Linked DNA regions of Homo sapiens. The protein of the gene in region 3 interacts with the protein of the main gene of each other region in a pairwise test. Each region holds a gene or a part of one and is shown on either strand. Other genes may lie near its edges. The genes, in order: NHSL2, WASF1, ABI3 and TXN2.

Region 1 (8,620 bases), on a different chromosome or scaffold from region 3:
AAAGGGCAAATGCTTCAGGAGCCCCCACCATCCCCTTCTTGACCAGTCCCATCAGATCTGGACCTAAACCAGAGAACTGATGAGGGTGCTGGACTGTGTGTGTGTGTGTGTGTGTGTGTGTGTGTGTGCGCGCGCGCATGCACACACGCATGTATGGTGTGATTTGTGAATTAGCCCTCACAGTCCAGGTTGAGAAACCAAACTCACACAGACACATACATATCATCCATTCTTATCCCACAACGTTTATACGAGAAAATGTGAAAATGTGAATCTGAGCTTCAGACTCCCAAGAAGCATTAGAGGTGGAGATGGGAGCAGGATGGAGAGAGACGTGAAGAAGCTTTAGAACAGAATTCATTTAGAGATTCAAAACACAGGAGGAGGTGGTGTGCTGAATGTCTTGTGGCTGTGTTGTTGCATGGGCAATCCCAAGGAGCCCATCCCAGGGGCTGAGGGTCCAGAAGGCAGGGAAAAACTGTGGGCACAGAATATCTTCTGCACCTCATTGGTTTTCTTGCTAAGGCTGAGTGCTCTGTCTAGAACAGGTCCAAACTGCATTAGGAAATGGATACATGGATATTCTAGGTTTAAAAACCAGCCTTTGGAACCTGGTGATTTCCCTAGGAAATCGTAGGCTGAACTGGAATCCTATGGCCTGGGCTGCCAGACTTTCCAACGACAGCCCTAAACTCATGATACTAGTATGAGGCAGGAAAGGGTGGACAAGGGTGGGAGTCTCCAACCACAGATATGAGGGAGAAGTTATGGAACAAAATAAGTAAGAGAACTCAGAAATTCTCTCCTTCCAGTTTATCCCAAACCCAGGGAAGCAGAGGCACATTGGGTAACAAGGATAGGTCTGGGGAAAAAAATGAGGGTTTCTACACTGAGGTAGTCAGTAATGAGAGAGAGAGAGAGCTCATGAAGGACACTCTATTGAAGAGTAATGGTTGGCATATGCAGCCCCCCTCCACCTGCTCCTGTGCAGTCAGTCTGGTCTGACAATGCAGTAGATGGGAAGGCAATAAACCACATCAGCTACTGCACAACTCAGTTATCACATGGGGCAGCTCACAGAAATGCTTGTCTCAGAAGACAGTCTGGATCAGGGGTCAGCCTAAGGCTTTGCATAGCCCATGAGCTAAGAATAGTTTATATTGGCAGGGTGCGGTAGCTCACACCTGTAATCCCAGCACTTTGGGAGGCCGAGGTGGGCGGATCACAAGGTCAGGAGATCGAGAACATCCTGGCCAACATGGTGAAACTCTGCCTCTACTAAAAATACAAAAAAAAAAAAAATATTAGCTGGGCATGGTGGCACGCACCTATAGTCCCAGCTACTCGGGAAGCTGAGGCAGGAGAATTGCCTGAACCCGGGAGGTGGAGGTTGTAATGAGCCGAGATTGTACAATTGCCCTCCAGCCTGGCTACAGAGAGAGACTCTGTCAAAAAAAAAGAGAGTGGTTTACATTATCCAAAGGTTGCAAAACAAACGAATGAACAAACAGCAACAACAAAGAAGAATGTGCTACAGAGACCACATGTAGCCCACAAAGCCTAAAATAGTTACTGTCTTAACCTTTACAGAATTTGTCAATCTCCCATCTAGATGATGGGGGAAACCTCACCAATCTCTGGTGAGAAGCCTCTAAGCATCCTCGAAAAGAGAAACGAGAGGAAGTCCAGGAGAAACAAGGGAACAATGGAAAATAAATGGAAATGCCAATCAATTTGACTAGTGTGGCTCTAAAAGATGCATGGCTTGCAATTCCACAGAATAGTAAGGTATGCATGTACTAAGGAAGGAGGCCCCAACTAAAGAGAGAGCCACACTAAGGAACATTAGGCAAAGAATGTTCTGGAAAAGAGACTGCATGCGGAGCTTAGTACTGATTAGGGAATTCTGTTATTGTTTGATAAGATGGAGCTGGAATTTGAGCCCAGGGATTGACAGAATATCAAGCCAGGTGAAATTTCTAGAACACAACTAAATATCTCATGAGCATTTAACAGTCTGAAAATTTCTCATAAAGATTAAGAAGGGAAGGCTAAAGTAGACTCTGGGAAAGCTAATATTGGTTGGGTTGTACCCTACTTTTAAATAAACACCAAATACAAAAGTTTGCACTAAAAAAAGTAGAGACATTATGGGACAATGACAAGAGGAATCTCGGTTTTTCAAAAAGAAGTCACCAGAAGGTTCCCTTACATAGGAAGTTTACCTCTAAAAAATGATACTTGATATCTAAAAAACTCATTTTTCACACAACTTTTAGGGAAAACATCCATTGTACTAAGTAGGGTGCACATATTGAATTTGGAGGGAAACTAATGTTTATAAACTGAAAATCCAATTTGTCTTTGGATTAATGAATTAAAGAACTCTTGAACATTTTCCCTTAAAGCATATATATTAGTTCATTGAAATACCTGGGAAATTCATGTGTCATAAAAGTAGAAGCCAGCTGTGGGTCTTCTATAAATTGTAGTGCTTTAAATGAAACCAGATTGGGCCCAAGGGCAGGAGACCTGGAATTGAGGCTGGGCCCCACCACTGACTCACTGTGTGACCTTGTATATAAGTTATTTGACCTTTCTGGGCCTCAGCTTCCTCATGTGTGAAATGAGAGAGGTTGGTCCCTTTCAGCTCTAACATTCCAAGACTGCAGATAAATATAGAAATAAGATAAATACAACAATCTAGAAATAAGAAATATAGCCCAAAGTAAGCTTTGGAGTCAGTAGAAAAAAGTAGCAGTGAAATATAATAAAAAGAATAAAACTTTAACCACTAGCCAGGGTAAATATATCTCATTTAAAAATGAATGAAAAGGTTTGTAATTTACAATTCATCAGAAGACCTCAGCACATACATATATTGATATTTCTTCGCCATGATACACATGGGGGAAGGAATGAGTTTGAGGTGACTTGTACAATGAGCACAATGCTGCGTTTGCATGCACAACATTTTATAAAATTGGATGTTAGAAAAAGCTCAAGACCACCTAAGGAATAAATGTCTATAAAGCTTGGCATTACAAAGAGGCTGAGAGGGGTTAACTAGTTGTTCCAGTTCAGATTTTGTTTTGGAGTTCGTTGCTATCAAATTCTACTATTTAGGCAAAAATCTTAAAATCAAATATACTTCTGCCAGAGCCTTACTGGAGAACAGCCACCACGGTAAAGACAGGTATTTAAGAGCTGGCAATACCAAACAAACTTAACACCTTTCCCTTTTTTCCATTTGTGAGTTAAAAAAAATCTTTTTTTTTTTTTTAAACCCAAAGCAGGCCAGATGGGCTGGCTAAGTCTAATCAAAGATTTTGCAGGTTGAGCAATTTGTTGATCCAATATGATAAGTTCTTTTTAATTTTTTTCGAGCATATGCACCGGAGTCCCATAAAACATGAGACTCCTCAATCTGATAATTTCTTAAAACCAAGCAAACATATGCCTGACCAAGATAACAATATACACCTCTTGGCCAGAGACTGGTCCTTATGATGAGAGCCAGAATAATGGTAAAGGTTGGAATCAGTTGGAGAGTCGTGGCTATAGTGATTCAGGGGCTTGAAGGAGTAACATCACTGGAATGCACATACACACACACACACACACACACACACACACACACACACATACACTCTCTCTCTCTCTCTTTCTCCCTCTCCAGGGATGCTGCTGTTGCTGCTCCTGGAACTGCACTTTGAGAACCATTGGCCTAGATTTTGGGCTTTACTGAACAAAAGTATAATGCCCATTTCACATTGCTCATTACTCATGCAAATTTCTTCTTGCTAACCTTATTAAAAATGCCCCAAATGTGTGTCTATAACTATTTACTATGTATTCCTCTATAAATCTGTTTCAAAGTATTCTAAAATTTGCTTATTTCATATTATGTTTATATCATTATACTTTTTGCTGCCTTTTGACAAAGGCACTTCCTTATACATCTTTCCCACTCTCTTATCCTTTTAAATCCCTAATATCCTTGTCACTTGTAGCTGAAATACATGCAAAGCCTTTGAAAGGATTGGGGGCTGTGGTATAGATATAGTCTCATTTTCACACCAAGCTGGACTGATAGCCCATAACAGAGATGAAGCAGGGAAAGCAGAAGCTTGTAAAGGTAAGCTTATTGGAGGTAAAGTTGTACCTCCAATAAGTTTAATAATCACCACCAATACTGGACGACTGACATTGATTGGACATGGATTGGACAGTTTCACCTTTCACAAACAGGACATATTTTCACAGACTCTTCAATTCCTTGTGTTCTTTACTCAAATGGTAAGTAGTATTAATTCCATTTATGTAAAAATGTCAATGTACAATATGAATGATCTAGGCCTTCTCAGTGGCTTTTAGTAGCCATTTCTGAGAGTCCCTTGGTAGTAACCATATTGAATAGCATTGGATATCAGGACAATTTAATTGACCATCAGCTAGTAACTCAAATGATTCCAGGCGATTAAGATATTTTCTATATTCTGGAGTTAGGCGTCAGGGAATTTGGCCTTTCCATGGTGAAAAATACACTTCTACAACTAGTTGATGCCTAACATTCTGCAAGTAGAACTTCATTCCATTGGCTTAAGGCTTTTCCCTTGTTAAAATGCAACTGACCCTCAAAAGAGGTAGCATTAAGCCTTATAATCTCAAAGTAAATGAATTTATCCCTTTCCTGAGAGCAGGTTTTTCTTAGGAGGAGAAGGAAGTAGGAGGCACTGAAGAGAGTTGGTGCTGGGAAGCAAGGTTTAGGAGAATGGAGCAGAAAGAGGAGAGGGAGGATCCTGGTGACAGACCGTCAACTCAGTCACTCTTTTGTTGAAGGGCTGGCCTTGGGAGCATCCCTGCTGAAATGGGTGTTAACTTGCCACCTGGAGCATATTACTTAGAAATCAACTATGTTTTCCGATATTAACACTATTAAAGATTCTTTAATGTATAGGCACACAAAGACTTATAGCAATGGAAAAATAGGTAGCAATAAAATATTTGGTGCAACAAGAGATAGGGAGTTAACCCCCGACCCCAAATCAGAAGGACTATACTTGTTCATAGGAAGAAGATAAACTGATATTACTTTAAAGAGTGCAAATCACAGGGCTGGGACGAGGGTAAGGCACTTGCATGGCCCTGAGAGCGGGCACCTCTTTGAATTTTACGCCCTAGGTGCCTCGCTCACCTCACCCTAGTCCTGGCCCTAGCAAATCATATTAAAGCGAAAGCTCACCATTGTGTCACAGACTTGATAATGGAAGGTGGAACGAGTGAGGAACAGAGCACTGAGCATGAACTCATCTTTTTCCCAACTTGTTCATTGATGAGGAAGAGGGCAGGTGCGTGGACAGATCTGCTCAGACTGACAGGTACAGAGAGACTGCAATCGGGTCTGTGTTGTCCAGATAGTTACACTGGATGTCAGGTGCAGTGCTTGTTAGGAGAGCCTGGTAGGATCTCCTCTGTCTTTGCACGTTCAAGGTAATTTATCCAGATCAACTGGTCAGTTTGTGGTCATTAAGCTAACATTAATTATTTTGCTTCCTGTTGTCTCACTTCCTTTATGGGTGAGTTGTTGTGCTAGGGATGCAGTTCATGGGATTTGGGGCTGAGGGATAAGTTGGGGCTGAGGAATAAGTTGGGGCTGGTGGGGGAGGCCCAGTCAGGAGCTGAGGCAGGCCAAGTAGTACAGGATAAGGAGAGGAGACACCAGCAAAGCTTGCTATTGTACCAAGAATAACTACCCTCAAAAACATGTACTGACTACCCACCAAATGCAAAGCATCCTTGGTTAACAATTAACCTCCGCTCCTGGGGATGGTGACTAGATCAAAGTCAGGCTAGCAGAGCCATCTGTTGCTACTAACTGGAATGGGGAGGAAAAAAGAGGATAGGGACGACTTGAAATGGAAGCTGAGCTCCTAGGGCCAACTTCATTTCACTCAAATCTCTTCTCTATTCCACCTTCAAAAATTATTATCATTATTATTTATACTAGTAATTGTAGTAGTGGTGGGTTCTCTGCAAGCCTTTCTGAGAGGGGCTTTCAGCCTCTCTTCTCCAGTCTCAGCAGCGTAGGTGCAGAAGGCAGCAAACATTGTGGTAAGTGCCTGGGTGGGAGAGAGAGTGGAGTTATGATAATCAAAGGTAGGAGAGAGGTTGAGTGTTAGGAGTGGGGAAGATGCTTTGTGTTCTGTTAATTAGTGATTAGTAGAAATTTTACAGTTTGGTTGTTTATTTGGGACGTCTACCTGTTGCAAAATATTAAATGAGGCCAGGTGCAGTGGCTTACTCCTTTAATCCCAGCACTTTGGGAGGCCAAGGCGAGAGGATCGCTTGAGCTCAGGAGTTCAAGACCAGCGTGGGCAACATAGCAAAACCCCCATCTTTACAAAAAATTAATTTAAAAAATTAAATGAATACTTCCGGTCTTAAATGTTCTCTCTGACCATATGATTTCTGCCCCAAATCCTCTTGTGCTAATGGGAACACCACTGCGTGGGCCACAGTGATGATGTAGAAGATATTCTAAAAATTCCAGGCATATAGAGTATTGTAGAGGAAAACAAGACTAAAGGTAACTGACAAACATCAAGGTGTCTGAGAATTCAGGTTCAGAATCTTTTGGGAAAACCTCCAGAGGTAGCAAGGTGAGGGGAGAGGCAAAACCCATTAGAAGTAGTAAACAAGAAACTTCCAGAAAAGTCCACAGAAGTAACAAGGCCTATACTATGTGAGTCCCATACTCAGCTTTAACGTTCAACCAGTCATAATGGTTCCCAAGGAGACCCTGGTGTCCTTTCATTTTTGCTAAGCAAAAGCACAAACGCTCCTTCATTTACTACAGAGGAAAATGTCTGTTTTTTGGAATTCTAAGTCTGGAGCAGACAAATGTGGCATTCATATATAAACTGAGGCCAGGGATGAATTGATTTTATTTTGGGCAAAATCCCTGGAATTTGGAATTTGGTTAAGAACTTCACACCAAGTAGTTCTAGTACTTTCAAAAGCAACTGAGCCTAGCTGTTTTATTATTTTAAGTGTCGAAGTGCTGGTTGCAAGGGAGTTGGTGGGCCTGGCCTGTTTCCAGAAGTCTCAGATTCAGAACTATAACAACAAAGGGCCTAGGCCTAGGGCTTCTCTTGTGAGAGGCCCAAGTTTTCTCAGTACTTAGTGTGGTTTTTCAGCTGCTCTGTCCAGCTGGAGTGTGGGCAGTTGAGCTAAAAGGTGGCTTCTCATTGGGCAATACGACCTATCAAAGTTGAGATCTGCTTGTCTCTGGAACCTTACTGCATCCTCCAGGAGGTTGACCATTGAATCTATTGGGTGAGGGGTGAAGTAGGAAGGGGCTGGGGAACTCTCTTTGTGAAGCAGGCTACAATTTCATTCAACTGTTCTTTTTGCCTCTTGAAGACAGTAGACAATTAACTTTCCATCATTGGTCAGCAGGTTTTCTTTGCTCAGTGCTTTGTCTTCCTCCCCAACCTCCCAGAAATCAGGCATACAAAAATCAAATGAATCACTGCTCTTGCTCTGCTTAGAAAATTGAGCTGACAAGAATAGTTAGTGCCTATAAGCTTCGTGGGGGGTGGGGGCAGGGAGGGGTCGCAATGATTATTCTGAAGCTCTTTCAGTATGCCATTTACCCAGGTTCTTATGCTCTCCCCCAGCAAGGTTAATTGAAAGCTGGTCAAACACAGAACCTAAATGGCAAAAAGTAGCCCTTTTGTGTGTGTGTGTGTGTGTGTGTGTGTGTGTGTGTGTGTGTGCATTATGGGCCATAGCAACTGGCAAGACTGCCTTTTAGATTTTGGATAGATCCTTTTAGTTTATATGTTCTTGGTTTTTGGAACAGAGTCGGACTTCCTTTAAACAAAACCAAACCAACCACAAACCACGATCTGAATTGACTGGTGGGGGGCAAGATGCACTTACTTTCCATTATCCTTGAGCCTTTGATGATGCTGTTCCTTCAGTTAATTACTTCCTGTAATGAATTTTATATGCAAATGAAATGAGAGTTCTTAGAATGCAGCATGAGCTGGGCGCAGATCCTGCCTATCGCTGTTGACAGACACATGGAGGATCTCAAGGTGCACTTGTGAGTTACCTCGGCTAGATCTGAGTGAACAAATGGCTGTCTTGTTTGTTGGTCAAGCTTGGTTCATTTAAAGCAACCCAGTCCTGGTCTTTTCTAGCTAATGGGGGTGGGTGGGGGGGCGTCTATATGTTTATTGAAACTTATCACCCTGATCTCCATGTAGACAATCAAACTGAAAAAGGCATTAAGTTTCAGGACAGAGTCACAGTCATATTTTGCACCACAAAAGCCATCCAATCAACCTCATGCCGAAATAAGTGCACCCTGCAAACCTCTTGTGAGCGCAGGGGAAAGCTAAACTGTGGTTGAGGAGGCATCAGAGTCTTTCTGTGTTTGCACACAGGGCCATCAGAGCCTCCCTAGGAAAGTGAATAATAAGCAATGGCACCCTATGCCCCCCAAGTTTGGCAGCCTCCAATCTGCTCTCACACTGCACTCCTCAGTGACAGGAGCCAGGGATGGAGCAGCCGGGTCACTGAATTGAAAAAGTGGCACATGTGCCCTGAC
Region 2 (8,620 bases), on a different chromosome or scaffold from region 3:
AAAAAAATCCAATTATCTAATTAACCGATAATAACTATATCACTCAACAGAAAACATTGTCTTTAAACAATAAAACAAAAAGTGATTCAAAACTGGGGGAGAAAGTACAGAAAGGGCTAGAGTAAGTGTAACAAATTCAAACGCCCAAAGCGGCCAAGCGGATAACATACATGAATGAAGCCAGTCGGGTGTAAGATGGGGCATGAGGTGAGCTAGACAGACATGTCCATCTCAGGCACTCTAGTTCCAAAATTTAAAAACCTCTGTGTTTGGCAAACAAAACACTCCCTACAGGCATAATCTGGCTTGCCAGTCACCAATTTGCAAATGTTAGCTAGAACACTGGGTTACCATCTAGCAAAGAAGACAATACAATGGCATTATACAGGGATTAGGGAAAGCAGAGATAGCTACAGGAGAACCAGAGAGATGATAAAGACAGAATTTGCCTCCTTCATAATTCAACCTAAATCTAACTTTGCTTCATCCTTCTGTGTTTTCAGTTATCATTAACATGAAATATAAAGCAGATACAAGTGAATTTTATTAGAAAGTGGAAAATGACAATAACAGAAATTTCATGTGAATATAATAACCTCTCCAAAACATTTAGGAGAGAAATGTTTAGGATGTGCTCTGTAGCAACAAAATACTAGCTTAATCTACGTTACCAATATCTGTACAAGATTCCATTGCTCCTTACCAAAATGTTCCTCTCTTCCTTGGTACACCTAACTCCTATCTGTTCTTCAAGATTCATTATAAGCTTTGTGGGAAGGGTTTACCCTGCCTGCTAGCTAAAGCAGATGCTATTTTGTGTTATCTAAACCCTTTATGCATACCTCTGCTATGGCACTTATTATGCCCTACTCTAATAATCTAATTGCTCATCTGCTCCCCATCAGACTGTGTTCTTTCTGTGGAGTTATAAAGACTTCAGTATTTAACTATATGGACCCAATAAAATAAAACTGTCAAAATACAAGATTAATGAAGTTCAATATATGCAACAAAACACAAATATACAAAAATTAACCTCAATTTTTTAATCTCTTGTAATACCTTCTGCTTCCTCTTTTCCTTCCTCTTATCCTCTGTATCTTGCAACATTTTTTCTTTCCATAGATCAAAGAAATACGAAGGATTGGTATAAAACTTCAGACCTTCTTTACCATCATCTCTGAAATATAAAATATCAATTAAAACACACATTAGTAAGACTTAGGCAATCAGAATAGAAATAATTTCACTAAAATGTTTATCCTCTTACATTAATAAAATACAGCATGTTAAAATAGTGCCAAAATAAAACTGAATATTGCACCAATAGAAAATTTCTCACAAATATGAGGAAACAAAGAAAAGTGGTAAAGCAGATGCTTTTCCAAGTTAGTACTAACAATTTAAAGTATAGCTGGGCAATTTTCATCCCTAATTTCTGCTGAATCCCAAATTTTCTAAAAAGTCCTTTGGGCAATTCCAATAATTACAAATAGCTCTGCCAAAGATAAAAGCCTGAAAAGACAGTAACATCATCTAGAAGACAGAAATTTTGCAGTTTCTGCCAATACTATGATTTATTTATTATCTTACTAAATCCAAAAGATATCATGTAATAGTCATTCTAACAGTCACATTTATATCTAATTATCTGCACACTGACTTACAATTTCAAATAACTCTCTGAATACTATTTTATTCAGGTTGTGTTGTACATTACCCATTTAACAAACCATGTGAAAGAACTTCAAAGAAAGGCTAAATAATTCCAGATTTTATTCTAAGTGGTAAAAAGCATTTTATAAAGGTACTACCTATTCATTATGTAAGAAGTTAATGTATACAAATCAAATCAAGAGTAGACGAAACAGGCCGGGCGCAGTGGCTCACGCCTGTAATCCCAGCACTTTGAGAGGCCAAGGCGGGTGGATCACGAGGTCAGATCGAGACCATCCTGGCTAATACAGTGAAACCCCATCTCTACTAAAAATATAAAAATTTAGCCGGGCTTGGTGGCAGGCGCCTGTAGTCCCAGCTACTCGGTAGGCTGAGGCAGGAAAATGACATGAACCTGGGAGGCAGAGCTTGCAGTAAGCCTAGGTGACAAAGTGAGACTCCGCCTCAAAAAAAAAAAAAAAAAAAAAAAAGAGTAGACAAAACAAGCAAAAATTATGTTTATTTTGTTAGTAGGACAGAATTTTGAGCTTTTTCCATTTGATTAAAAATTAAATTAAAAGGACAATAATAACTCCTTATCTCTTTACATTAATAAGTTTACCAGTGGCTTTTCTAAACTTGTAAAAACAACTCTTTTAAATAGGTCTTGTCTTTTGTATGCCACAATCTTAAGAATTCATCCAATGAATAAAAGCAAAGGTTTTCCAAAGGTGGTGGACAGAGAGGGCTCTCTGTGTTGGCTAGAACCCCAATGAAATAAAGAATGTTTGGGGATTTAGCATTTCAATCTGAAGTCTGAGATAAATAATAGGGCTACTATTTATTAACCTACCTACCTATAAGGAGTGAGTATATTGAGAGGTGGAGGCTGTTCACAAACATCGTACGTCTCCTGTAATGGAATAGGCAAAGTCTTGCGATCGAAAAGCTGCTGGTCTTGAATTGTAGAACTTCGGAAAGCTTTCCTCATTGTTATATCTTGCAAAGACACTAAAACAAAAATCAAGAATTCATTTTATTTTATTTTACTAAGATGATTTAACATAAGGGCAAATTCACATACTTTATTTGTCTAAAAGTCAGCATGGCTCAAGAGGTTGTGACCTTAGTGGCTTATGAATCAGAAACCATATTTTAAATGTTCTATCATTATATTTACCCATATCATTCTGCGCCTAATTTTCCCAATCAGATAGGTTTTAATTAACCTTTGATTTTGAAGGCTCAGAGGGCCCTAATGACACCTGAAACATATCTACATTTCAACCAAATATACCTTTTTCTTTCTTCTACCTGCCATCATGGGCCCCCACCAACTTAGGTTCTCTTCTCCTATAATCTTCTTTTCCATCTCCCTTTATTCCTTTTTTTAGCTTACACCAGTAACTCTGAAAGGAATTACTTATTAGTGGCACTGTGGGCTAAACACGCTGTTAACCTCTATGCTACATATACTATAAATATTGTATGTGTACTCTCAAGTTAAAACAAACTTTACTGTAAAGGAAATACTTTTAAGTATTAGGTGATCTATATTATTCTCTTTTTCACTTATCTTTTATCTGTACTATAAGGATTTCTACCTAACTATAAGCTCTTGAAGACTCAGACTATCTTGTACATTAGTATTCCCAGTCACTAGCACAGCCCCATCACATACATGATTTAAAAACAACTTCATTTATTTTGAACTGTGCAGCATGTTAAAATAAAAAACATACAAAAATGCTGCATTCTTAATTCTTACACTGATATCCCGATATTAAAAAATAAGGTAATTTCTTGATATTTAATATGGCCTTAAGTATACAGACAAATGCCCTATAACATAGCAAGGTCAGTATAACAATCCTAACAATTCTTTTTTTTTTTTTTTTTGAGACAGAGTCTCGCTGTGTCACCCAGGCTGGAGTGCAGTGGCACGATCTCGGCTCACTGCAACCTCTTCCTCCCGGGTTCAAGCAATTCTCCTGCCTCAGCTTCCCAAGTAGCTGGGACTACAGGCACCTGCCACCATGGCCGACTAATTTTTTTTTTTTTTTAAATTTTTAGTAGAGATGAGGGTTCACTATGTTGGCCAGGCTGGTCTTGAACTCCTGACCTCATGATCTGCCCGCCTCAGCCTCCCAAAGTGATGGGATTACAGGTGTGAGCCACCACATCCAGCCAACAATTCTTAAGTTATCCTTCTCCTTAAAATAATATTCCTGTCATCCCCTCAAGTAAATTCACTCAACATGAACATGGGACCAATGGCACAGAAGGTACAATAGGCTGGCTCTGCAATGGTGGCACCATAATTCCATTTCTAGCAATTCCACTGCTGCATGACCTGTAACACACTTATAAATACTAAAATAAAATTCAGAGAAGCAAAAAGTTTTTCCCCACTATCACTAAAAAGTGGCACTGGAGATACAGTATTTAATGAGTACATACTATATGTGCTAGATGGTTTCACTAAATTTCATTTCATTTAATCTTTACAATTCAGTAAGACAGGAATTATTACTCCATTGTGAAATATAAGAAAGCTAAGGCTAGGAAATAGTATATAACTGACCTGAGGTTAAACAGTTAATAAACAGCAGAGCCAGAACAGAAAAGTCAGATCTGTCTACCTTTGAGGCTAATCTTTTTGCCACAATACCACACGCTGTTCTCAGGCTCCTGCCAGAAGTGGGTTGTGTTTTCTGCAGTCAAAGTGGATCAATTCTTGCCACTCTCCTGCCCCACTTATTAATCAATAAGTATGTAATTAAGATGAAACCTAGTGTTTAATCTCGCCAAACTTCCTTGGTAAAGGATGTAAGAAACATGTAAACTAATAAGCATGATGTACTTTTCTATCTTCAACTCCTCTCATTTATCGTTTGTCTTATTATTAACAGACTATTGTGGTGAAGCTCCTTCCACTTGCCAACAATAACATCTGATATTAATAAAATAGAATTATAAAGCAATAAATTAGCATAATGCTTATAAACATAATTGACTTAAATATAATTGTACAAGTCTTTGTTTAAAATTCATTTAAAAAATATTTTCAAAATTGATAGTTTTTAGTTACTACAAAACGGTTAAAAAAACTGATACCACACTGTGCTATTTAGTACTGTACACATGATGTTTTTTTTTTAATTCCCACTGAATTAAAAAACCTAGGTTAAATAACTGAAAACTCCTTCAATACAACCTCTCCAAAACAATTTCAAATTAAGTAGTTCAGCTTTTAGATTCTGAATTCTTCCCCCACTGCTCCACAAAATTTTAAAGGAAACTAGGTATAATTCTGACAGTATAGCTGTTGACATATTAAAATTTGTTTTTTAACACAAACATCTTAATTTATTTACTGTTATCTGTATTTTCACTTTCAAGTTTAATGGTGGCTCTAAGACATTTGTTAAAATGTAACAATATTTTGAAACTAAATGTTGATTTTTATTTCTGTTACATATGAGAACTGCCTGTGTATTTCTCTATTATTTGATGGCATAAATTTATATTTAAGTGATAAGCAGTTGAGTTATCTGAAAAACAAATTTTGGCTATAAATTATGTATTTGAAAGCATGACCATAAAATATTTTTCACCACTAACAATGATTTTATTTCAAGAATTCCATGAGGTGTAATTAATGTATTGATACATGCACATGTTTCAAAGGATACCACCAAGAAAGACAACCTAAAGAAGGGGAGAAAATATTTGCAAATCATATATTTGATAAAGGATTTAGATCCAGAATATACACAGAATTCCAACAAGTCAAAAATAAAAACACGAATAATACAAATTATAAATGGGCTAAGGAATTAAATAGACATTTCTCCAAAGGAGATATTCAAATGGCCTGTAAGCACATGAAAACATACTCAACATCATTAGCCATCAGGGAGATATAAATACATGCTATATGAATGAACCTTGAAAACATTATGCTAAAAGAAGCCAGTCACAAAAGACCACATACTGTACTATTCATTCATATGAAATATCCATACAGACAGATCCATACAGACAAATCCATAGAGGCAAATCCATACAGACAGAAAGATCAGTGATTGCTAGGGGTTGAGCTGAAGGGGAAACAGAGTGACTGCTAATGAGTACAGGGCTTCTTTCTGGAGTGATACAAATACTCTAAAATTGATTGTGGTGACGGTTGCATAACTTGAATATACTAAAAAACACTGAATTGTACACTTCAACTTTAAATGGGTGAACTGCAAGGTATACGTAGGTTGTGAAATATATCTTAATAAAGCTATTTTTTAAGTATTATTTCCTTTTCTTCTTGTATCCAGAGCTCTGAGTTTACATTTTACAAGTGGTACAAATCTAGTATGCCAAGTATTTGCCTCTCCTTATTTACACATTGGATTATTTCAAAAGTAGCTGGTTCCATCACTAAGACATCTATCATTACATTATATTTTTGTTCTTTCCACTGACATCCTTTAGTATTTTTATTGTTAAAGTTTAGATCTATTATATAATTTGCATTTATACTAAAAATTAGATCTATCATATAATTTGTGTTTATACTATTTAATGCAACAAAAATATTTTGAAGAGAGTGTAAGAAATTCCATTAAACAATTCTCTGTGGTAGGTAAGTGCAAATTATGTTCTTAGTATTGCATTTCTTTTTGTGAAACAAACAAAAAGATGCATTTGGGAAACGTCGGCATTCAATGTATTCTATCAAGGCATAAAACATGATTTTACCACCGAAGTTTCTACAATTATTTTAGCCTATCTGATTATTCCTGATTTAATATCTTGGTATAGAATGTTTACACCCTACATACTGGCAATTTGTTTTTGAAATGTTCATTTAAAGTAGGAAGTTGCATTCAGTTAAATAACTAATAAGACTTTAGCAATATGCACATACAAAAGCATATTAAAAGCAGTTACATAGCCAGGTGTAGTGGCTCATGCCTATAATCCCAACACTTTGGGAGGCCGAGGTGGGCAGATCACAAGGTCAGGAGTTCGAGACCAGCCGGACCAACATGGTGAAACCCCATCTCTACTAAAAATAAAAAAATTAGCCAGGCGTGGTGGCAGACACCTGTAATCCCAGCTACTCAGGAGGCTGAGGCAGGAGAATTGCTTGAACCTGGGAGGTGGAGGTTGCAGTGAGCCGAGATTGCGCCACTGCACTCCAGCCTAGTGACAGAGTGTCTGTCTCAAAAAAAAAAAAAAACAAAAAAAAAACCAGTTACATTCTTGTAGAATCAAACCTAAAGATTTCAGGTAATTTTCTAATAATTTTTATTTCTAAGACAAAAGTATACAAATAAATTATAAGGGAGAAATGAAAAGAGAAAGATAATGAAGAGAATGGAGGAAAATGTCTGGTTAAAATGACTTCTTTATGCAAAAAAATTAGGAGCTGTTTAGTGTACAAAAAGAAGAGATTTAAAACAGAGTAGAAAAGAAAAGCCCGGAGAATCATACTGATGGCATTTTTAGATAATTCACTGATTTATTACAATATGTACACCAAAGGACATGGGTATGATCTGTAATAAATTCATGATTAATACTGTTAAGTATATCATTCATCTCATCTAACTTAAAATATATACGTAGAAGAAAATACAATATTAATAAGCTTACATTCTTCTTCCTTTGGATCAAGCTGTGTAACACTAACAGATAAACGGTCCACACGTTCTTGCAATGAGTTGACTCTGAAGGAAAAACTATGTGCTTCATTGAATAATTCTCCAAATATATCTTCAGCATATTTACCTAAGCAAAAATGACACATATATCATAAAATTTAACATCCAGAGCACTGAGTTTTTATCTTTGCAAGCAGTAGAAATCTAGCATGATATTTGCCCTCAGATACTTTGTGATCAGAGATAAATAATGAACAATGTAATATTACAACTGGTGACCTGTTGAATTTGGAATTTATTTGGAATTACAGTTGACCCTTGAACAAAATCGTTTAACTGTAATAGTCCACTTACATGTGGATTTTTTTCAATAAATACATTGAAAATTTTGGAGATTTGAGACAATTTGAAAAAACTTGCAGATGAACCACATAGCCTAAAAATACTAAAAATTTTAAAGTATATTTTAAAGATATGAATGCATAAAATCTATGTAAATACTAGACTATTTTATCATTTACTACCACAAAATATACAGAAATTATAAAAAGTTAAAATTTATCAAAATTTACACACAAAACAAAAACATACATAGTGCCATTCACAGTCAAGAGAAATATAAAGAAATGGAAAGATATATTAGGTTGGTGCAAATGTAATTGCAGTTTTTGCCAACCTAATAGTACTAAATCATAACAATAAATTTAAGTGTAATACTGTATTACTGTAACAATTTTATAGCCACCCTCTGTTGATACTGCAGTTAGCTCTAGTGTTGTTACTATCCACTTAAAATGCTGTTTGAGCAGTTCTCTCTCCACTAAATTGCATATAAGAGTAGGAAGTAATCTCTCATGGTTCTTGTGTATTTTCCATCATGTTTTATGCAATACTGTAAACCTTGAATACATTGTGAGACTCATTCAAAGTGCCACCAGTGATGCTGGAAGTACTCTCAAGTACAAGAAAGTCATAACACTACAAGATAAAGTTGAATTGCTTGATATGAACCCCAGATTGAGGTCTACAGCTGTGGTTGCTTAGCATTTCAAGATAAATGAATCAAACTTAAGGGCAATTATAAAAAAAGAAAAGGAAAATCATGAAGCCATTGCTGCAGATACACCAGCAGACACAAAAACCTTGTACTTTTTGCGAATACCTTTTAATCTTGTATCAAAATGCAATTTTTGTGGGTGCATGGCTGTTACAAGAAAGCATACATACAGACTCTAACATGATTTGAGAAAAAGTGAAGTCCATATATGACAACTTAAAGCAAAAGGAAGGCAAAGGATCTA
Region 3 (3,019 bases):
ACTATTTCTGTGCTGTCCACACTCTCTTGCCTCCCGACCCCCGCACTCCCTTCTAGCACCCCCAAAGGAAAAGCCAGAGGAACAATCGCCTCCTGGTGGTGGTACGAGGTAGCGCACCGTCCGGCTCGGGTCCGGACAGCCAGTAACCTCGCAGAGAGTGACGGTGTCTCCTTGCATCCCAGCCTCGTCTATGCAGCAAGAGACCAGGGACTTCACCAAAGTCACCCTCGCGGGCTGGGCCTTCCACGCATCCCCCCCACCCCCCATGGAACAGAAAGCCATGTTTTTAAGCAGAACCAGCGAAACCCAAGCCCCTCCTTCCTCTGGTGTTTTACAACTATAAAGGAGGTGAAGGGGGAAGAAATGACTGAGATCTCTCTCGCGACAGTCTCAGAGTTGACAGTGAGGTGCTCTCGGAGAGCCCCGCTTAAGTCATGGAGATCGTTCCCACTCTTGGGCAAGTGCCCAGCCACATATGAACACACCACACACACAGCAAGCAATGGGCAAAAGAACAAGTTGCAGTCAATGGCTGCAGAGGGGTGTCTGGGGTCCAATGTGGGCTGCACTTTGTGGGTACTGAGGAAATGGGAAGATGCTGCTTCTAGGTCAGCTGGTGGGTTGGAGGTTGGGGGCTGTAATTAGCAGCAGCCTTAGAACTGGGATGCCTTTCAATCCCTCCTGGCCCCTTATCTCTGTGGGGCAGTCACAGGACATCATCTGTTTTATTCAAAGTTGGGACTTGCAGCAGGAGACCCTGTCCTGCATGGAGTAGGGGTCCTCTGTTGACAAACTTCTTGGTTTCCAGCTCTTCCCCATCTGCAGCAGGCCTCTGGATAAATTCTCTCTCCCCAGGACCCCTTCTCCCTCCGATGGGAGGAAGGACAGAACACAGCTCACAGCCCAAGAGGTGGGCAGACCCAGTCCAGCTGTGACTGGAGCTGGTTTTGGCTTGGGGCTCATGAAACCCACTCAGTGCAGACATCAGCTGCCCAGAGAGCCCTGGGCTGTCAGCAGCTGGGCTCCACATAGTTCCCAGGGAAGAATCCAGTCCCCTCTGAGCTGACGCCCTCGCACCAGCCATCGGAGTAGCGGCGAGTGACACAGATGACAGTGCCCTCAGAGAAGGAGAGCTCATTGTCCTTCTGGCTGGTGTATGGGTACAGTGTCACCACTGCAGGGCAAGAGAAGAGGGTGCCGTGAGATAATGCCTCTTGCCCTCTCCCCCTCACCCCCCACCACCATGGGGATGCACGGTCTCAAGTACTAGACTCTAGGGGCCATCTTGGGGGCCTTCTTGCAAGCCTTCAGGACCCCTCCCCAGCTTAGTTAATATTTAATACCAGGCCAGCTGCCCTCTCCCCAGTTCTGTCAGTTCGTCAGAAAAATTGTGTGGGGGGCCCGGGGGATAGATTCACACCTTTGCAGAGGGAGGAGAATGGGGATCAGGGCAACAGAGGAAGTGGGATCCGGTGCCCCTCAGTCCCAGAAGTCAGGTACCTTTCTCCAAGTATGAGGCAGGCACCCAGCTGGGCTCATCAGGCCCAAATCCTGGTGGGGGTGGAGGCAGCCCCAATTCATCTCCATCCAGGGGTGGAGGAGGAGGCAGGTCCAGTGGCAGGGGCAGCTCTTCGTCTTGGGGGAAAAGCAGAAAGGCTGTAAGTGTGGCACAGGAAGCTCCTTCAGTGTGTCAGGGAACTGCTCAAGAGCTGGACCCCAGAATCCACCCATCTCAGCGAGGCACGTTGGGAGGCCAAGGCGGGCAGATCACCTGAGGCCAGGAGTTCGAGACCAGCCTGGCCAACATGGTGAAACCCTGTCTCTACTAAAAATACAAAAATTAGCCGGGCATGGTGGCACACGCCTGTAATTCCAGCTACTCGGGAGACTGAGGCAGGAGAATGGCTTAACCCAGGAGGTGGAGGTTGCAGTGAGCTGAGATCTTGCCAACACACTCCATCCAGCCTGGATGACAGAGTGAGACTCCATCTCAAAAGAAAAAAAGAATGCACCCATTTCATGCAATCTTCCTCCAGCCCTCTCCTGTCCTGGTCTTCCCACAGTGCTGCTAGCACATAGTTAAGTGCTCAGTAAACCCTGAAAGATCCAGCAGTAGAGGACGGTCAGACTCTGCCTCTTATTAGCTGGGTGGCTCTTGGGCAAGTCACTGAACCTCAGCGTCAGTGGCTTCATCTGTTAACGGAGAGTGGTAAAGACCCTCTCAGGATTAAGTTTATTTTGTTTTATTTTTTTTTGAGACCGAGTCTCGCTGTGTCGCCCAGGCTGGATTGCAGTGGCACGATCTCGGCTCACTGCAAGCCCCACCTCCCGGGTTCACGCCATTCTCCTGCCTCAGCCTCCCGAGTAGCTGGGACTACAGGCGCCCGCCACCACGCCCGGCTAATTTTTTTGTATTTTTAGTAGAGACAGGGTTTCACCATGTTAGCCAGGATGGTCTCGATCTCCTGACCTCGTGATCCGCCCACCTCAGCCTCCCAAAGTGCTGGGATTACAGGCGTGAGCCACCACACCCGGCCTTTATTTTATTTTTTTGAGAGGGAATCTCCCTCTGTCACCCAGGCTGGAGTGCAGTGTGGTGATCTCGGCTCACTGCAGCCTCTGCCTCCTGGGTTCAAGTGATCCTCCTGCCTCAGCCTCCTGAGTAGCTGGAATTACAGGCACGCACCACCACGCCAGGCTAATTTTTGTATTTTTAGTCATGTTGGCCAGGTTGGTCTCAAACTCCTGACCTCAAGTGATCCGCCCTCCACAGCCCCCCAAAGTGCCGGGATTACGGCCGTGAGCCACCCCGCCTGGCCCTTAGGATTAAGTTTATTATTATTATTATTATTATTATTATTATTATTATTATTATTATTTTGAGATGGAGTTTCGCTCTTGTTGCCCAGGCTGGAGTGCAATGGCGCGATCTCGGCTCACTGCAAACTCCGCCTCCCAGGTTCAAGCGATTCTCCTGCCTCAGCCTCCCGAGTAGCTGGTATTACAGGCTTGCGCCACC
Region 4 (9,205 bases), on a different chromosome or scaffold from region 3:
GTAAAACCTCGTCTCTACTAAAAATACAAAGATTAGCCAGGAGTGGTGGTGTGCGCCTGTAATCCCAGCTTCTAGGAAGGCTGAGGCAGGAGAATCACTTTAACCTGGGAGGCAGAGGTTGAAGTGAGCTGAGATTGTGCCACTGCACTCCAGCCTGGGCGACAGAGACTCTGTCTCAAAAAAAAAAAAAAAAAAAAAAGAGAAAGTGTTTTATTTCACCCACAGGCTACTCTGATCCCACAGCCCCTGAGTTGACCATTATCACTGCCCTGATCATAGGTATTCCCCTCTCGCTGGGGAAGCTCATCCAGGACAGGCCTGGTGCTGTCATCTCTATGTATGTGGCACCAAGGAAAGTGCCTGGCACTGAATGAACAACTCACACCACCCCACTTCCTTACTGAACAAAATGAGGCATTATCCCATTTATTGTTCATTTCGGAAGGCCTCTCTGGAATGCTCACTACACCAGGAGGCCAAGACAGTTCCACCTTTCACAAACCCCTGGCTGACAACTCCTATTTTATTCTCAGCACTTACTTATTTATTTTTGAGATGGAGTCTCACTCTGTTGCCCAGGCTGGAGTGCAATGGCGCGATCTCGGCTCACTGCAACTTCCGCCTCCCGGGTTCAAGCAATTCTCCTGCCTCAGCCTCCTGAGTAGCAGGTGTGGTGGTGCACACCGCACCCAGCCAGGCCTGACGGTTTTAAATGCTGAAAAATAGGCCGGGCATAATGGCTCACACCTGTAATCCTAGCACTCTGGGAGGCCAAGGCGGGAGAGAATCACCTGTGGTCAGGAGTTTGAGAGACTAGCCTGGCCAATATGGTGAAACCCCGTCTCTACTAAAAATACAAAAAAATTATCTGGGTGGTAGTCCCAACTACTTGGGAGGCTGAGGCAGGAAAATTGTTTTAACTCGGGAGGTGGAGGTTGCAGTGAGCTGACTGAACCACTGCAGTCCAGCCTGGGTGACAGAATGAGACTCTGTCTCAAAAACAAAAAAGGAAAAAAAACCCTCAGGCCTGGCGCAGTGGTTCATGCCTGTAATCCTAGCACTTTGGGAGGCCAAGGTGGGAGGATTGCTTGAGATCAGGAGGTAGAGACTGCAGTGAGCCGTGATCGCACCACTGCACTCTACATTCTAGCCTGGGTGACAGAGTGAGACCTTGTCTCTAAAAGAAGAAAAACAAAAACAACTCATAACACTGAAAAACCCAGTGTGCAAGACCTTATCTCCTATTACAAGTGAAGAAAGGGAGCACAAAGATATCAAGTGGCCTGCCCAAGGCCACAGGGTGAGTCAGAGAAACAACTGGAAAGCCAGCGAAACAATCTGTCAGAGACCTGACCAGAAGGCCCTTCAATTTCTTTTTCTTTTTTTTTTTTTTTGAGATGGAGTTTCCCTCTGTCACCCAGGCTGGAGTGCAATGGCGCGATCTCAGCTCACTGCAACCTCCACCTCCCAGGTTCAAGCGATTCTCCTGCCTCAGCCTCTTGGGTAGCTGGGATTACAGGTGCCCGCCACCACGCCCGATTAATTTTTGTATTTTTGGTAGAGATGGGGTTTCACTATGTTGGCTGGGCAGGTCTCAAACTCCTGACCTCAGGTAATCCACCTGCCTCGGCCTCTGAAAGTGCTGGGATTACAGGTGTGAGCCACTGCGTCCGACCTGAAGGCCCCTGAATTTTTAACTTATGCTACACTGGTTTCTCCCAGGATGCCTCATTCAGAGGGCTTTGTCCAGCTTTTGTGTAGTTGGGTGTCTAGCCAGGCCCCAAAGATCTAGAAATGAAAAAGCCCAGGCTAAAATTCAGAAGGCCAGAGGGACTTAAATATCTCTAAAGCAAACTCAGATAGCACTGAAAGGAAACTCCTTCCTATGCCCTGTATGCTTGGGCACCACGGTAGTGACACCGATAACTTTTTTTTTTTTTTTTTGAGATGGAATTTCACTCTTTTTGCCCAGGCTGGAGTGTAATGGCGCGATCTTCAGCTCACTACAAACACTACCTCTTAGGTTCAAGTGATTCTCCTGCCTCAGCCTCCCGAGTAGCTGGGATTACAGGCACACACCACCACGCCTAGCTAATTTTGTATTTTTAATAGAGACAGGGTATCACCATGTTGGCCAGGCTGGTCTTGAACTCCTGACCTCAGGTGATCTGCCCGCCTTGGCCTCCCAAAGTGCTGGGATTACAGGCATGAGCCACCGCACCCGGCCGACACTGATAACTTTTTGCCAGCCCTTCTTGCGGTTTTCATGGCAGGATGTTAACATCAGCTTATCTGCAGGGCCAGGAACTGGTATACACCAAAAGCAAGGTGACAGTCATATTTTTCCAACTCTGGTCCATGCTAAAGATGACGCTGAGCTTTCTGGGGATTGAGAAACAGAACATGTGTTTCCCAGCACTAACAGTCAGCTTTGCAGACTGTTCACTTGTCTGTCTTCCACCAGACTGCATTCCCCTTGAGGGCAGGGACTGGGCCTGACCAGTCTGTATATTGAGTCTACATATGAGCAGCATAGAACATGGCCGTGGGACACAGCAGGCATTCAATAAATACTTGAACAAGTAGGACCCTAGTCTTCTGTGGACCCCCAATACTCACTGTGCGTGGAAATCCACAACCACTGGTGTCTCACTGTTGACCACTCGGTCTTGAAAGTCAGGTCCATCCTGGATATTAAAGGTTGTCAAGGAGATCCTCGTGGTGTATATTGTCCGGGCTGGGTTGGGTGTTACAGTCAGGCCACCAGGACTGCATTGTGGGGTCTGCAGGGCTCTGGAAGTGAGGGGTGGCCACTGACCCTGAGAGGGCTTCCTGGAGATGACAGAGGCCAGGAACCTCCTCAGAAGAAGTCGCTGAGCCATCTGTGAGGGAAAGAGGCAGAAGAACTGGGGCACACAAAAGGAAGTCGACACACTAGAAAAAGATTTGGGGAGTACTCAGGGCTCAGGAAGAGGCAGAGTTGGAAGCAAAATGCAAGGAAATCATATGTAAGATTTGTAGCGTGGAAGTGAGGAAGCAATGAGAATCAAAGGGAAGGAACAGCTAGGCAAACCAGAAGGACAGGAAAACTGGCTTCACAACCAAAAAGAAATCGGGATTTAGATTATAACGGAAGAATGGGAGGAAGAAACCAACAGATTTAATAATGTATGTAAGGACCAAGTACCTTACACACATTATTGGTCTTCCTACAGCAACTTCCAGGAAGTTGCTATTGTACTGCCCACACTGCGAGTAAGGGAAGGAATACGAGGCTCAAGTAAGTTAAGTGACATGCCCAAAGTAACCCCGCTATTAAATGACAGCCAACACTGGAACCCAGGGTCGTCTGAAAAGATGAAACGCAACAATTCAAGGAGGAACTAAGAGTGTGAGAGGAACCAAAAACGAAGAGACATGTACTGGAGGGAACCAATAAAGAAGGGACATGTGTGGAGGGAACTGGGAAAAATCGGACATCACCAGGGACCCTGGCTCTCCGGCGAGCTAGATCCCCCCGCCCGCCCGGCCGCCAGCCTGCGCAGGAACGCGCTCGCGGCATGCCTCAGCCGCGACACCACCTCGAGCCACCCCCACAGGGCTCCTACCTCCCTGCAATGCGAGCGGAGGGATGCACAGCCTAGCCCTCCCTGCCTGTCAAGGGCACGCCTGTCGTCACTTCCTCGGGGGGGGACGTACATAACGTCACTTCCGGGTACAGGCAGGCGGAAGAGCGTCCCTCTCCAATTTTTTTTTTTTTTTTTTTTTTTTTTGAGCCAGAGTCTCGCTCTGTTGCCAGGCTGGGGTGCAGTGGCGCGATCTCGGCTCACTGCAACCTCCGCCTTCCGGGTTCAAGCGATTCTCCTGCCTCAGCCTCCCGACTAGAGGCGCGCGCCACCACGCCCAGCTAATTTTTTTATTTTTAGTAGAGACGGGGTTTCACCACGTTGGCCAGGACGGTCTCGATCTTTTGACCTCGTGATCCGCCCGCCTCGGCTTCTCAGAGGGTTGTGATTACGGGCGTGAGCCACAGCGCCCATCTGTCCCTCTCCAATTTGAGGGGCGTCTGGGATTTTCCGCCAATGGGAATGGCGGGCTGAGGCACAGTTGAAGGGGCGGGGCCTCAGCTACGGACCGGAAGCAATGGGCAGGCCGTCGGGGAACGGATTGGAAGAGGCGGGCGGGCCCTGGTCTGGGCGAAGGCGGGGGCGGGGCGGGGCGGAAACGGAAGGGGTGGGCGGGCCCTAGAGGAGGGACCGGAAGAGGAGGTGATGGAGCAGGGGTAGCAATGGAGGGTACTTAAGGGAGAAAAGGCAGTTGAGAAGTCCCCGTGGTTTTGGATTTTGCAAACTCTTGTTGCTTTATTTTATTTACATATATTTATTTATTAATGACAGAGTCTCGCTCTGTCTCCCAGGCTACAGTGCAGTGGCGTGATCTCCGCTCACTGCAACATCCAAATCCCGGGTTCAAGTGATTTTCCTGCCTCAGCCTCCCAGGTAGCTGGGATTACAGGCGCGCGCCACCACGCCGGGCTGATTTTTGTATTTTTAGTAGAGACGGAGTTTCGCCATGTTGGCCAGGCTGGTCTGGAACTCCTGAGCTCAAGTGATCCGCCCGCTTCAGCCTCCCAAAGTGCTGGGATTACAGGCGTGAGCCACCTTGCCTGGCCTCCTGTTTATAACTGGCGCTGTCCACTTCCTACAGATGTTGACAGGTTCTGTTTCTCCATTTAATATGTAAAGCTAAGCTCCTCAAAGGCATGATGCCCTTTATATGTAAAAGAACTCAACCGGGAGTTTAGGGGCCATCCTTTAAGTGGCCCTCGTCTGTGTCCGCCTAAAGGAAAACAAATGAAAACTGAGGCGAGCCTAATTTAAGCAGGGAGTTTTTTTGGGTCAAGTTCGAAGACTGCAACTCGGAGCAGAGATTCAAGTTGTCCTGAATATACACTCGGATTAGCAGCAGCTGAAAGAGCGTTTTTAAAAGAACAGGCAGTTTCCAAATTGTTGATCAAAGTTTTTTTTTTTTTTTTTTTTTTTTTTGAGACAGAGTCTCGCTCTTGTTGCCCAGGCTGGAGTGCAGTGGCGCGATCTCGGCTCACTGCAACCTCTGCCTCCTGGGTTCAAGGGATTCTTCTCCCTCTGCCTCCCCAGTAGCTGGGACTACAGGCGTGCCTCACCACGCCTAGCTAATTTTTATATTTTTAGTAGAGACGGAGTTTCACCATGTTGGCTAGGATGGTCTCGATCTATTGACCTCATGATCTGCCCACCTGGGCCTCCCAAAGTGCTGGAATTACAGGCGTGAGCCACTGCACCCAGCCTTTTTTTTTTTTTTTTTGAGACGGAGTCTTGCTCTGTAGCTAGGCTGGAGTGCAGTGGCATGATCTTGGCTCACCGCAACCTCCACCTCCAGGGTTCAAGGGATTCTCCTGCCTCAGCCCCCCAAGTACTTGGGATTACAGGCGAGCACCACCACACCTGGCTAATTTTTTATATTTTTGGTACAGAAATTTTATATTTCACCATGTTGGCCAGGCTGGTCTCGAACTCCTGACCTTAAGTTATCGCTCGCCTCGGCTTCCCAAAGTGCTGGGATAACAGGCGTGAGCCACCGCGCCTGGCCGCCCTGCCCATTTTTGTATCGGTTTTCTGTGTCTCTAGCACTTTCTTTTCCACAGCCACCTATCAATCCTATTCAGCACTTCCACAGTATTTTCTAGAGAGCCAATTTTCCTGCCTAATTCACATTCTGAATTTCACAGGCGGACCAGTCCTGTTTGTCCTTATGCCATAGTCACTTCACCCTGATCGGCCTCAGGCTTCTCATCTGAGCAATGGGAAGAATGCCTTTCTCATAGCTGGGCTGAGGGTTGCAGTAGAGACAGAATCCACATCATTGCTGCCTGATGACTCCTGCAGGGAAAGCCTGAGAGACACAGAGAAGGCTGAGCTCTCGGCGCGCTACAAAAGGGCTCTCAGCTACATGGTGGCTCCTCTGTCCAGCTAGAGCTGAGCTGGCCTGGGTCTGGCTTAGTCACAAGCAGGCTCAGGGCACAGCTGAGAGGCAAAGGGAAGGAAGCCAGGACTGGCAGCCTGGGCTAAGGGTAAAACTTCTACCTCCTACCAATATTTATTGCAGTGTTTTTCAAACTGCAGGATATGGACGTCAGTGGGTTTGCAAAATTAATTTAGTGGGTGGTGATCTGCTTTTTAAAAAAACAAACATGGTGCCAGGCGTGGTGGCTCACACCTGTAATCCCAGCACTTTGGGAGGCCAAGGCGGGCAGTTCACTTGAGGTCAGGAGTTCGAGACCAGCCTGGCCAACATGGTGAAACCCCATCTCTACTAAAAATACAAAAATTAGCCAAGCGTGGTGGTACACGCCTGTAGCCCCAGCTACTCGGGAGGCTGGGCAGGAGAATGGCGTGAACCCGGGAGGCGGAGCTTGCAGTGAGCCGAGATAGTGCCACTGCACTCTGGCCTGGGCGAAAGAGCAAGACTCTGTCTCAAAAAAAAAAAAAAAAAAAATAGCTCTAAGGTCTTGCACTAACCGGTATGACCTGTCTGGCGTCTTTACAGGCAGTATTGGAATGTTATAGGGAGACATACAGGGTTTAAGAAATCCATCACGGAGAAGACCTTCAATTATCAATTATAGGTTTTAAATTTACCTCGGCTTTGAAAGGAATAGGATACATTGCTTTCTCTTTACTACTTCCCCAGGGGTTTGTAATTTAACATGAAACTGAGTAATCTGTAACTTTCCTCGATTCTCGTCTTTTGACCATACCTTGGGATGAATGAGTTCTTTGTCTGTGGTGGGGAGCAAGTTTAGGGAGGGGAGGAATCTTCCCTGATTAATATAGAGGCCTAAGCCAAATTTTAGCATTAAATCTCTCTAATAGGTTTGTTCCTGCCTCTGGAATAAACAGAAATTTAATATTAGCTGATTTGCTTTTATATATGACTTTTGTTCTTTTTCCCATTTGGGACATTTTCTTTTGAAGTGACCTATTTTTAATCTGAAACATTTATTTTGTCCTCTTTCTCTCCCTTTGCCTCTCCCTCTCTGCCTCTTTTTCTCTCTCACTCTTTCTCTTTGCCTCTCTCTCTGCCTCTCTCTTCCTCTTTGACTCTCTCCCTTTGCCTTTCTCTCTGCCTCTCTCTTTCCCTTTTTGCCTGTCTCTCTCTCTTTGACTCTGTCTGTTCTGTCAGTCTTTCTCTCTCCTCTAAGTTTTTTTTTTCTTTACTTTTGAGTCTCCTGGCTTTACTCTTTCATACTCTATATATTGCCTGGAGAGTGGGGGTCTAGGTTCTTTTTTTTTTTTTTTTTTTTTTTTTGAGACGGAGTCTCGCTCTGTCGCCCAGGCTGGAGTGTAGTGGCGCGATCTTGGCTCACTGCAACCTCCGCCTCCTGGGTTCACGCCATTCTCCTGCCTCAGCCTCCCGAGTAGCTGGGACTACAGGCGCCCACCACCATGCCCGGCTGCTTTTTTTTAGTAGAGACGGGGTTTCACCGTGTTAGCCAGGATGGTCTTGGTCTCCTGACCTCGTGATCCGCTCGCCTTGGCCTCCCAAAGTGCTGGGATTACAGGCGTGAGCCGCCGCGCCCAGCCCTCAGTCTAGGTTCTTTATAGGTTCTGGCCCCCTGGGTACTTTGTTGTATGGTAGACAGCAGAATTTTTGCCTTCTGCTTTTGTTTTTCATCATCTTTTCTTATATATACCTTTTGGGCTTCTCTTAGAAGCTCTTCTATAGGTTTATCTTTCCAGTTCTCTATCTTTTGTAATTTCTTGTTAATATCTGGCCAACTGTTAGTGACAAAATGAAGTTTTAACATTCCCTGCCCAAGAGGATCCTTGAGACCTAGACCAGTGTATTTTCTCATTTGTTCCTTTAATCTATCTAAAAATTCTATAGGCCCTTCATCTTTCCCTTGCTGTATATCAAATATTCGGGTAAGATACTGAGTTCGGGGTACCAATTTTTTTTTTTTTTTTGAGATGGAGCCTTGCTCTGTTGCTCAGGCTAGAGTGCTGGAGTGCAGTGGCGTGATCTCGGCTCACTGCAAGCTCCGCCTTCTGGGTTCACGCCATTCTCCTGCCTCAGCCTCCTGAGTAGCTGGGACTAAAGGCGCCTGCCACTATGCCCAGCTAATTTTTTTGTATTTTTTAGTAGAGACGGGGTTTCACTGTGTTGGCCAGGATGGTCTCGATCTCCTGACCTTGTGATCTGCCTGCCTCGGCCTCCCAAAGTGCTGGGATTACAGGCGTGAGCCACTGCGCCCAGCCTCGGGGTACTGATGCTTTAATCCCCTTTATTATCAATTCCTTAAGGTCCTGCATATTTTCTCGGTGGGCTGCGTTGTTATTGTCCCACTGGGGGTCTTGGGTGGGAGTTTTTTGATCTGCTGTAGGAACGTTTTGGCCAGGAGGGTGTTCGTGTTCCTAGGCTCCCATAGCAGCTCTATGGATCATGTCTCTTTCTTCCCCCGAGAAGAGGGGAAAGGGAAATTCTGAATATCTTTTTTACATTGCTCTATCTCACGTTGAAGTCCTTTAAGGGAAAGGTACTTAGGTCGGTAGTGAGTGGGCTCTTGGGACGATTCTCAAGAGGCAGGGTTGTAAGAAAGGGGACATCAGAGATAGGAGAAGGGTCTGGGACAGCAGCTGCTTTTGTTTTTGGTCCTTTCATTATCCTTCTAACATTTTAACATTAGGCCTGGGGGAATATTACTGTTGCTAGCTTTCTCCTTTTTATCTCTTACCTTACTTGGGGCATTTCCCATCTTGGGTCCTGGTTAAGCTCAATCTCCCCTGTTGGAGATGTCTCGCCTATCCTTTAGCCCCACCTGCTGGAGGCTCCTTGCATTCATGCACACTTTCAACCCCCAGAATATCCTGACCACCAAGGAAATACTTTGTCACCCCTGCGATGTTTCTTAGCTTGGTCTCTGCACACTTACTTGGTCGCTGTGGTACATGAGGATCCTTTCCCCCAGGTCGCCAGCCCGTTTCTTTCTGCCTTGCTGAGAGTATAGGTTTATTCGTCACACTGGTTGGTCTCGATTCCTTACCCCTGTGGCCACCGCAACAAGGCAGTGGGACGTGCCTCCTCATGGGAGAGGTCTAGACCCTCCTCAGAGGAGGATGGGAATCCCAAATGAGACCCCAAATTTGTTAGAAATAAATTTTCAGTG

The links.
Region 1: the proteins of ABI3 (region 3) and NHSL2 interact in binary tests that used the Homo sapiens proteins (3 or more experiments, as listed by UniProt).
Region 2: the proteins of ABI3 (region 3) and WASF1 interact in binary tests that used the Homo sapiens proteins (3 or more experiments, as listed by UniProt).
Region 4: the proteins of ABI3 (region 3) and TXN2 interact in binary tests that used the Homo sapiens proteins (3 or more experiments, as listed by UniProt).

Annotation. Positions count from the first base shown.
Region 1 is NC_000023.11:72,143,866-72,152,485, reverse strand, and holds part of NHSL2 (NHS-like protein 2), read right to left. Parts: 3' UTR 1-8,620.
Region 2 is NC_000006.12:110,106,015-110,114,634, forward strand, and holds part of WASF1 (actin-binding protein WASF1), read right to left. Parts: intron 7,447-8,620; coding exon 7,312-7,446; intron 2,668-7,311; coding exon 2,514-2,667; intron 1,181-2,513; coding exon 1,063-1,180; intron 1-1,062.
Region 3 is NC_000017.11:49,220,707-49,223,725, reverse strand, and holds the end of ABI3 (ABI gene family member 3), read right to left. Parts: intron 1,657-3,019; coding exon of another isoform or gene 1,636-1,656; coding exon 1,501-1,635; intron 1,175-1,500; coding exon 1,011-1,174; 3' UTR 501-1,010; downstream 1-500. UniProt on the Homo sapiens protein: May inhibit tumor metastasis. In vitro, reduces cell motility.
Region 4 is NC_000022.11:36,477,956-36,487,160, forward strand, and holds the start of TXN2 (thioredoxin, mitochondrial precursor), read right to left. Parts: upstream 3,686-9,205; 5' UTR 3,609-3,685; exon of another isoform or gene 3,188-3,608; intron 2,883-3,187; coding exon 2,620-2,882; intron 1-2,619.